2 linked regions of the Homo sapiens genome follow. The protein of the gene in region 2 purifies or fractionates together with the protein of the main gene of each other region. This does not show direct contact. Each region holds a gene or a part of one and is shown on either strand. Other genes may lie near its edges. The genes, in order: ZNF326 and EIF2S3B.

The links.
Region 1: the proteins of EIF2S3B (region 2) and ZNF326 fractionate together in Homo sapiens (co-fractionation; one large-scale study listed by BioGRID). This does not show direct contact.

The regions. Positions count from the first base shown.
Region 1 is NC_000001.11:90,004,979-90,008,802, reverse strand, and holds part of ZNF326 (DBIRD complex subunit ZNF326), read right to left. Parts: intron 3,801-3,824; coding exon 3,765-3,800; exon of another isoform or gene 3,711-3,764; intron 3,671-3,710; coding exon 3,559-3,670; coding exon of another isoform or gene 3,555-3,558; exon of another isoform or gene 2,358-3,554; intron 1,459-2,357; coding exon 1,053-1,458; intron 1-1,052. UniProt on the Homo sapiens protein: Core component of the DBIRD complex, a multiprotein complex that acts at the interface between core mRNP particles and RNA polymerase II (RNAPII) and integrates transcript elongation with the regulation of alternative splicing: the DBIRD complex affects local transcript elongation rates and alternative splicing of a large set of exons embedded in (A + T)-rich DNA regions.
Region 2 is NC_000012.12:10,504,272-10,508,813, reverse strand, and holds EIF2S3B (eukaryotic translation initiation factor 2 subunit 3B), read right to left. Parts: upstream 2,925-4,542; 5' UTR 2,912-2,924; coding exon 1,493-2,911; 3' UTR 289-1,492; downstream 1-288. UniProt on the Homo sapiens protein: Member of the eIF2 complex that functions in the early steps of protein synthesis by forming a ternary complex with GTP and initiator tRNA.

The sequences.
Region 1 (3,824 bases), on a different chromosome or scaffold from region 2:
AACTGTTAAAAATGCAAAATTTCTACACAAGTATAACAAGCTACACTGACATATCAAAAGCTAATAACCAGTCAAAAACGTGTACCCTACTACCTTTTTTACTAGAAATACTTTCCTCTGCAAATAAAATATTAAGAGCAGCTGACTTAAAAGGATTCTTACATTATAACAAAAATACAATACTCTTTAAATGATCAAACTATATAATAACCCCACAATCTGCATACACTTACTAGGTAAATTTTCATGTCAATCAAGTGACCTAAGAACATAAAGCATAATGTTTACACTATGTACCCTAAACTTAAACAACTGTGGACTAGTATATTTACTCATTTAAGCAATAATTTACAAAATATTACTTCCTAAGAAGAAACCATAAACATATCTGTACAGGTGGAAATTATTTCTCAAGAGTAAAACTAGTAACACGAGGGAAAATAAAACAACCAGCAACTGGACATATTGTAAGCGTGAGTTAGCAAAATTACACTGACCACAAATCATTGTACAATCTATTATACACATCAACTTCTTCACCACATAAACATGGCTAAGCTATCCTGATCTATCATCAACTTTTAGTCTCCTGTGTTTAATGTGAAACATGGAGCTTTGAAGAAATTCTACTTGCTAGAGTTTAGCCACAAAGTATAAACATTTTATCATACATTGCACCTTTAACCTACTCAAAAACTCAAAAAGGGTTCAGTGACCTTTCACAATAATCCACAAACTATTCCACCAGCAAAACTGCTAGTGTTTACAAGGAAAATGCAACTCCTTTTAACCCCTTTTAGACCAAACCAGTAGCCTCACCTTTTTAATAAAGGGAGATTTGGCACAACTTTATGATCATCTCAAACTGCCACTTATTTTCTGAGGTGCTAGAAAAACTTTTACAGTCAACCTAAAAATTATGTTTATGACTCAGCTTTTGCTTCAAAATACACCGGGATGAACAGTGTTTATTCTAGTTGAAAACGATGGTCTTGAAAGGGTTTAAAAGAGTGACTAGTGAAAAGAATCTGAAAAGATTCTGTTGTACTTACTCCTCGGCCTCGGCCTCTGCCTGTTGATGGTCCTCCAAAAGCATCATAGTTTCTGCTTCCAAACGTACTTTCAGGATAAGCAGGCGTTCCTCTCCCCCGAGAGCCTACAGGTGCAGGCTTCATATGGGGTGAAGAAAAACTGCTGTAGGAAGAGTAATTCTCTCTTCCTCTGTCCTCCATAAACCCAGGCCTCAATTTTGAACGGGAGTAAGGTGCTTCCCAGCTAGACCCGCCCTGGTTTCTACCTCCGAAAGAGTCAAGGCTATTCCGGTAGGAGCTCTCAAATCGACCACCATAACTACCTCCGAAGCGGCTTTGTTCGGGTTCATTAAAACCATAGCCAGATCTGTACAGATCTCGCCCACCCAGAGAAGACCTGGAGTCGTAAGACTCATAAGGTCCAAACCTGGAAAAGTTGCACAGTGAGGGAAAAAACAAAAGTAAGCTTACTAATGTTAGACAATTCAAAAGACAAATTATCAGATGACATTTATCAACTAAAATTCATTTATACCATACTGGTTTGCACAGTTCTACTTTTGTTCACATTTGATTAGGGCTGGGCAGTTCAACGTGAGACCAGATAGAAAGCTATCTGAGTCAGATTATAAATATGAATTGAGTTTAGTAAAACTTAGCTTTAAAATCTGCTTCTTAGCAGCTTTTCTATTTTATGAAGAAGAAAAGATTTGTCTGTCATTATTTAAGCCCAGCCCTAGTCTTGGAAAAGGTCATTTGCTAAAGTTCACAAACTATTCAAACTTTTTTGAATCTATCCCTAATATTAAAAATTACAAAACATTTACAATATTTTGGCTTTCAATAGGGACACAAATTGAAGTCTACTTAGATGTAGGTTATTTGTGACACAGAGAGATCCTTTTGCACTCCCAATAATCTATATCACAAACTGCTTCATTGTGTCTGTAGGAGTCAAAATTTGGGGAATTATCTCTGGTTATAAAAATTTAACAATCTGCCAAACTTCAGCCAAGGTCAATTAATCAATCCTCAATCACTTTTTACTTGTAGACTAGAAAATCTAACAAATCTAGAAGGATAAACAGATAAAACATAAAAGATCACCAACATATACCCTCTGCATATGAATTTTCAAGGCAGATGAGAAAGAATACATCTTATAATATATTCAATTATTTGCAAAATTATTTCCTTCAGGAAATTATCACATAAAACTACCCTAAAAAAGGGAGCACACAGTCTCCTCGAGGTTTTAAGAGAGTTAACAGAAGAAATAAATCATCTTCCTTCTCACAAACCCAAAGCATGGATTACAAAAGTTGCTTGATATCTTACAACACAATTTTATAAAGGCCCACAATTACACATGAGATAAAACAATAACATCTACGGATATAGCTTATGCACATTACATTCACAATATAAAAGGGCAATAACTGACATATTAAAACATTAAGTGTTACATTACTTCAATTATTTACAGATCACTAAATAGATTTACTTCTGAATCCTAGTAACCATATAAAAATTATTCCTATTTCCAACTACATTTTTCAAAACATCTATCACATAAGCAAAATAGTTGCAACTGTTCACTTTCTTAATTTTTCTTTACTATAAACCATAGTGGTACACTGGAAGCAGAAAGAAGGAAAGTAAGCATCATTCAGTCCATCATTAAGGAATCCGGATCCTTCAATTTATGCAGAAGGATGACTGTTTCACATGTCTACTAACTAGTTTTACTTATATTCAGCAGGAACCTTTGTGCCTCAAAAAGTAGACACCCCTTCTCCTGAAATATGGTCAACCTTAAAGCTTGTAGTTGTTTAAGTAGGTTTAAGCTTTATACAGTAGTAACAGGAAAATATAAATACAATCTCGACTAGTCAAAGGTATAGTATTCATGGCTTTAATACAATGCTTCTAGCCTAGAGCACAAGTGCTTTGGTGTAAGTAGTACCTGTCAATAAATAACCTGAACATAATTTTAAAAATATTTTTATTATTGCAATATGCTCTTCCTTTAAAATTAGAATTAAAGGAATATGTCCTGAATGTTTCTTGGAAAGTAAATGTTAGACTGGTTCAGTAAAATCCATTCTAGTTAGACTGCTTTGCTAATTTACATAGCACCCCACATTAGAAAAGATTTTTTTTAATTATTAAGAAAAAGCTTCATAAATAATATTTTCAATAACATTTTTATATCATTTTTCAGGATACTTTGATTGACAAGAAGTTAAAAGTAAAAGAATTTTTTAAAAGTTCACTGCTAAAAAGTGTATCTTACTCTATTATATTGACATGATATAGTTATCTGGTGTTTTCCTAAAATAACGTCTGCCAGTAATACTGATTTAAATTTTATACCCATTAATTAACACCTTTAAATATTTAAGGTGATGATTCAATAGCAAACAGTGAAGTTCAAGTATCATAACATGCCTAAAGAGTACTTAAAATAATATATCCAAAATCTTATAGTTGTCTAATTATTTGGCCAAATGATTAAGCAATTTACCTGCTACCCCCACCACCACCACTGTGATTGTCCATGCCATATGACTGGTTTAGGTAGGAATCCATGGATCTCTGACCCCCATAGGATCCATGGCCATAGTCACGATCCATCCCTATAAGAGTTTAAAAAGAAAAAAGTTATATGATGCTCACCTTTACTGGCACTCAAAAGAAGAATTTTTAGATAAATATCCTTGAATGTCAGACCTCCATAAGATCCAGGGCCATAATCACGATCCATTCCTAAAAGAGAGTCAATAAGAAATT
Region 2 (4,542 bases):
ATTTTTTTTCTATGAGTCTATGGTTTCATAACTTTAAAAAGCAGAAAAATTTTAATTTGCCCTACACTAACAAAAGAAAAAATTTGATTATTCACATTTATTCCCTTAAGCTAATAAGGGAATATATTTTAATGTTATATATGGAGATTAATATTACTTTAGGTCAGCAGGAGAACCCAGGGATGTATAATCACAATGCCGTCTTCAGGGCTGGTTAAAGTTTGAATTACTTTATCAGAAGAACATGATAGAAAATATATTTTCTTTTTTTTTTTTTTTTTTTTTTTTGCTTTCTAACATCTTTTACTTATTGACCTTTTGAAACATCCAAAAATTAGTAATATTATAATCTGTGTCACAATCATATAACAGTTAAGAAAAAACATAAAATGAAGGCCTAGAAGGATCTTTGTTACTCATCTAGAATTATTTGGTATAACAGTATTTTCCAATGGAGGAAGACTATTGGATTTCAGGCATAAAACAATGCAGAAAAACATCTCAAGGCATCACAGGGAGAGGGAGATAACTTCTGACTCTAGTTTCCCGTATTTCAGGCCAGGAAGAGCAAGGGGAGAAAATTATTTGCCCATGGGAACAAGTAATCATGCTCTAAAGGACAATTTCATTCGAACCCATTCGTGCATCCTTTTCATGCAATTCGAACCCATTCATTGCATCCTTTTCATGCAAAATTTCAAAGATAAAGCAACATAAAATATGGGGCCAAAGAAAAGGGAGAAGGTCTTCAAGGATAATTTGTGCCTTTAAGTTTTTACTGGTACAACAGTCCTTCAGCCTGGAGGTACTCAAAGACGAATCATGAAAAACAAAAAAAAACTTTATTTCGAACAGTTTCAGTGATATATGTGTGTGCTACAGCAAAGGCTGGTTGTGGCAAAGTTTCATTTCAAACTGCATGATGTGGGCTAGGCAAGGTGGCTCACGCCTGTAATCCCGGCACTTTGTGAGGCCGAGGTGGGCTGATCACCCTGAGGTCAGGAGAGACTGGCCTGGCCAACATGCCGAAACCCCGTCTCTACTAATACAAAAATTAGCCCCGTGTGGTGGCACACACCTGTAATCTCAGCTACTTGGGGGGCTGAGGCAGGAGAATCGCTTGAACCTGGGAGGCAGAGATTGCAGATCATGCCACTACATGCCAGCCTAGGTGACAAAGCCAGACTCAAAAACAAAACAAAATAAAACAAACAAAAAAACTGCATAATGTATAATTTTGACATTATGTGGGAATGCTTAACTTCTGCCAAAATGTAGATTCAATCCAACATTATGCCAATTTTTATACTAATTGTAGTCCCTAAGTTTTCATAACCAAAAAAAAAAAGAGAGAATAACCTTACCGTTACCTACTAAGGTAACAAACTGTGAAATCAATTCCCCAATATCGCTTTGAAAATAAACCCCTTGGTTGTTAAAGAGAAATTGCAACTTCCAGCTCCATCCGAATGTATTATTTAACCGGTATTCTTCAGTCATCATCTACTGTTGGCTTGATTGTCACTCCTCTTCTTATCTGACCCCAACCAATTAAACGCCAGTGTTTTTCAACTCTTCGGCTAAGGGCAATTTTTTCTCCTACCTCTGTGCACACTGGATTGGTCAAAACAATTTTGCCCAAATCGGCCTTGACAGCACTAACTCTCCCTCCTGTCGACAGGGATCCTATGTTCACCATGAGCACTTCATTCTTAGACAGCTTTTGAACCTTTGCTGCTTTCTTGTCTCCTTCAGTGCGTACACCTAGAAGCCGTCTAAGCAGGAAATAGGAAATTTCCAATTCTGTGAATATCTCAGGTAAAGCTCCGACTGCACCAAGTATTTGCCCCACCATTCTGTCAGCCCGGCACAAAGTGGGGTCAATTTTTGTTCCAACTCCAATAAGACCGCCTGGAGCAGCATATTGCAGATCATTATGCTCCGCAAAAAGTGAAACAATTTTGGAAAAGATTGATTTACACATGAGTTTTCCTTCACTATCTTTGGAAACAATACCAGGTCTTACTTCTGTCTCCTGGCCCACCTTTAATACTCCTTTTAGGATACTACCACCAGCTACACCTCCCTTAAGGTCATCAACTTCACAGCCAGGTTTGTTGACATCAAAAGATCTAATAACAATAAGCCGGGGCTCTGAAGTAAAGTCTCTTGGGGGTACTGGAATTTTCTTTACTATGTACTCACAAACAACTTCAATATTGTATTTCAGCTGAGCCGAAATTGGAATAATGGGAGCTCCCTCTGCTACTGTACCTTGGACAAACGCAAGGATCTGCTCGTATTGTTCTTTAGCCTGCCTTTCTTTTACCAAATCAATTTTATTTTGTAGAATCAAAATATGCTTCAGTTTCATGATCTCTATAGCAGCCAGGTGTTCAGATGTCTGAGGCTGAGGGCAAGATTCATTACCAGCTATCAACAGAAGAGCTGCATCCATCACTGCTGCACCGTTCAGCATAGTAGCCATCAAAATATCGTGGCCAGGACAGTCAACAAAGGAAACATGTCTGACTAATCTGAAGTTCCCTTTGGTTCCTGGAATGTCTGTAGGAAACTCATCAGGCATACTGCTCCCACAAGATCGATAACATTCTGGCCGAGGGCAACTTGGGTCATCAAGTTGATAAATCTTAGCATTAGCATATCCAAGCTTGATTGTAATATTTCTTTCTAGTTCATTTTTGAACCTGACGGTGTGAACTCCAGAAATAGCTTTGACGACTGTGGATTTCCCATGAGCTACATGACCAATTGTACCTATATTAATTGTGGCTTGTCTGCTGATAACTTCGTGTGAAAGTGGCGTCAACTTGGTAACATCCAAGGTGGTGAGATCCTGACGCGAAAGGTGCGGCTGCCCCAGAGTCACCCCAGCTTCTCCGCCCGCCATGTTGCCAAAAGAGGAAGAAAGTCACCCCGGCTGCCGCCTGATCGTCTGCAGGGGTCCTAGTGCGGGGCGGGGATGCGGAGGCCGGAAGGTCGACTAGGGTCTCAGGATGGCCGGTGCAGCAGCGGCCTCAGTGCTTGGACTTCTCTCTGCTTGAATCTGCACAGTGCCTGTCGGTAGGCTTACTGGAAAACACGGTGCAAAGTTGCTGGAGCTATTCGTCGCAGACTTGGTAGATATTTGTGCAGGCAATACTGAGGGCAGCCACCCAAACCCCCGCCCCCTGGGCCCATGCGAGGCGGGTCGAAAATATATTTTCAGTTGACCACAGATAAATACTTAAAAAATTAATGGACCATTGTAATCTATTTATATGAAAATGGATCTTGTATATACAGCCTGCTATTACATTTCTAAGAAGACACAAAACCAGCAACACACTGAATAATTCTACACTAAATATTTTTCTTCTTTAAGAAGATTAATTATTAATATATTTATTTTTTGTTCGAAACAAATAGCTATGTCGTGGTTTATATTATAATTTTCATTTCTTCAAATTATGTTGGAGTGATGACCATTAATAGATGCTATATTGGAGATTTATTACAATAGCTTTATTGAGGTATAGTTTATATACAAAAAAACTGTGCATTTTTAACGTATACAATTTGATGAGTTTGGACATATGCATACATTCGTAATACCATCACCCAATGAAGATAGTAGGCATGTTTATCATCTACAAAGTTTTTCTTGAGTACCTTTATTTTGGGAGCAGAGGGCAAGTAAGACACTTGACATGAGATCTACCCTCCTAGCAGATTTTAAAGTGATCAACGTATTGTTGCTAACTATACGTACTATGTGGTACAGTATATCTCTAGAACTTATTCGTCTTTCGTAACTGAAACTTAACCAATTGAAAGTGAGTCCCTGGTAACCACCATTCTCTGTTCCTATGAATTTGACTACTTTAGATAACTCATATAGTATAATCATAAAGCATTTGTTCTTCTGTGACTGGCTTATTTTATTTAGCTTAATGTCCTCAAGGGTCATTCATGTTGTCATGAATGGCAGAATATTCTTTCTTTAAGGCTGAAGAATATTCCATCATATGTACATACTACATTTTCTTTATCTGTTCATCTGTCAGTGTACATTTAGGTTGTTTAAATATTATTTATTCTTGATAATCCTACCATTGATGTGGGAGTGCAGATATCTCTTCAAGATACTAATTTTAATTCTTTTGGATATACTGTATACCCAGAAGTGATATTATTGGGTTATATGGGTAGTTTTACTCTTAATTTTTGAGGAAGCTCTATACACCTTTTTCATAGTGCATTCTTATCAACAATGTGCTAGGGTTCCAATTTCTTCACATTCTTACCAACATATATATATATATATATATATATATATATATATATATATATATATCTTCATATATATGTATATGGATATATTCGTTTTAAGGAAGAGGGTAATAAATGAAAGTGAGAGGATGGCTCATCTCCTTCTTCTGGGTATATATGAATGAATATATGGATATGTGAATGTATCCATATATATATATATATATATATATATGTAAAATAGTCATCCTAACAGGTGTTAGGTAGCAT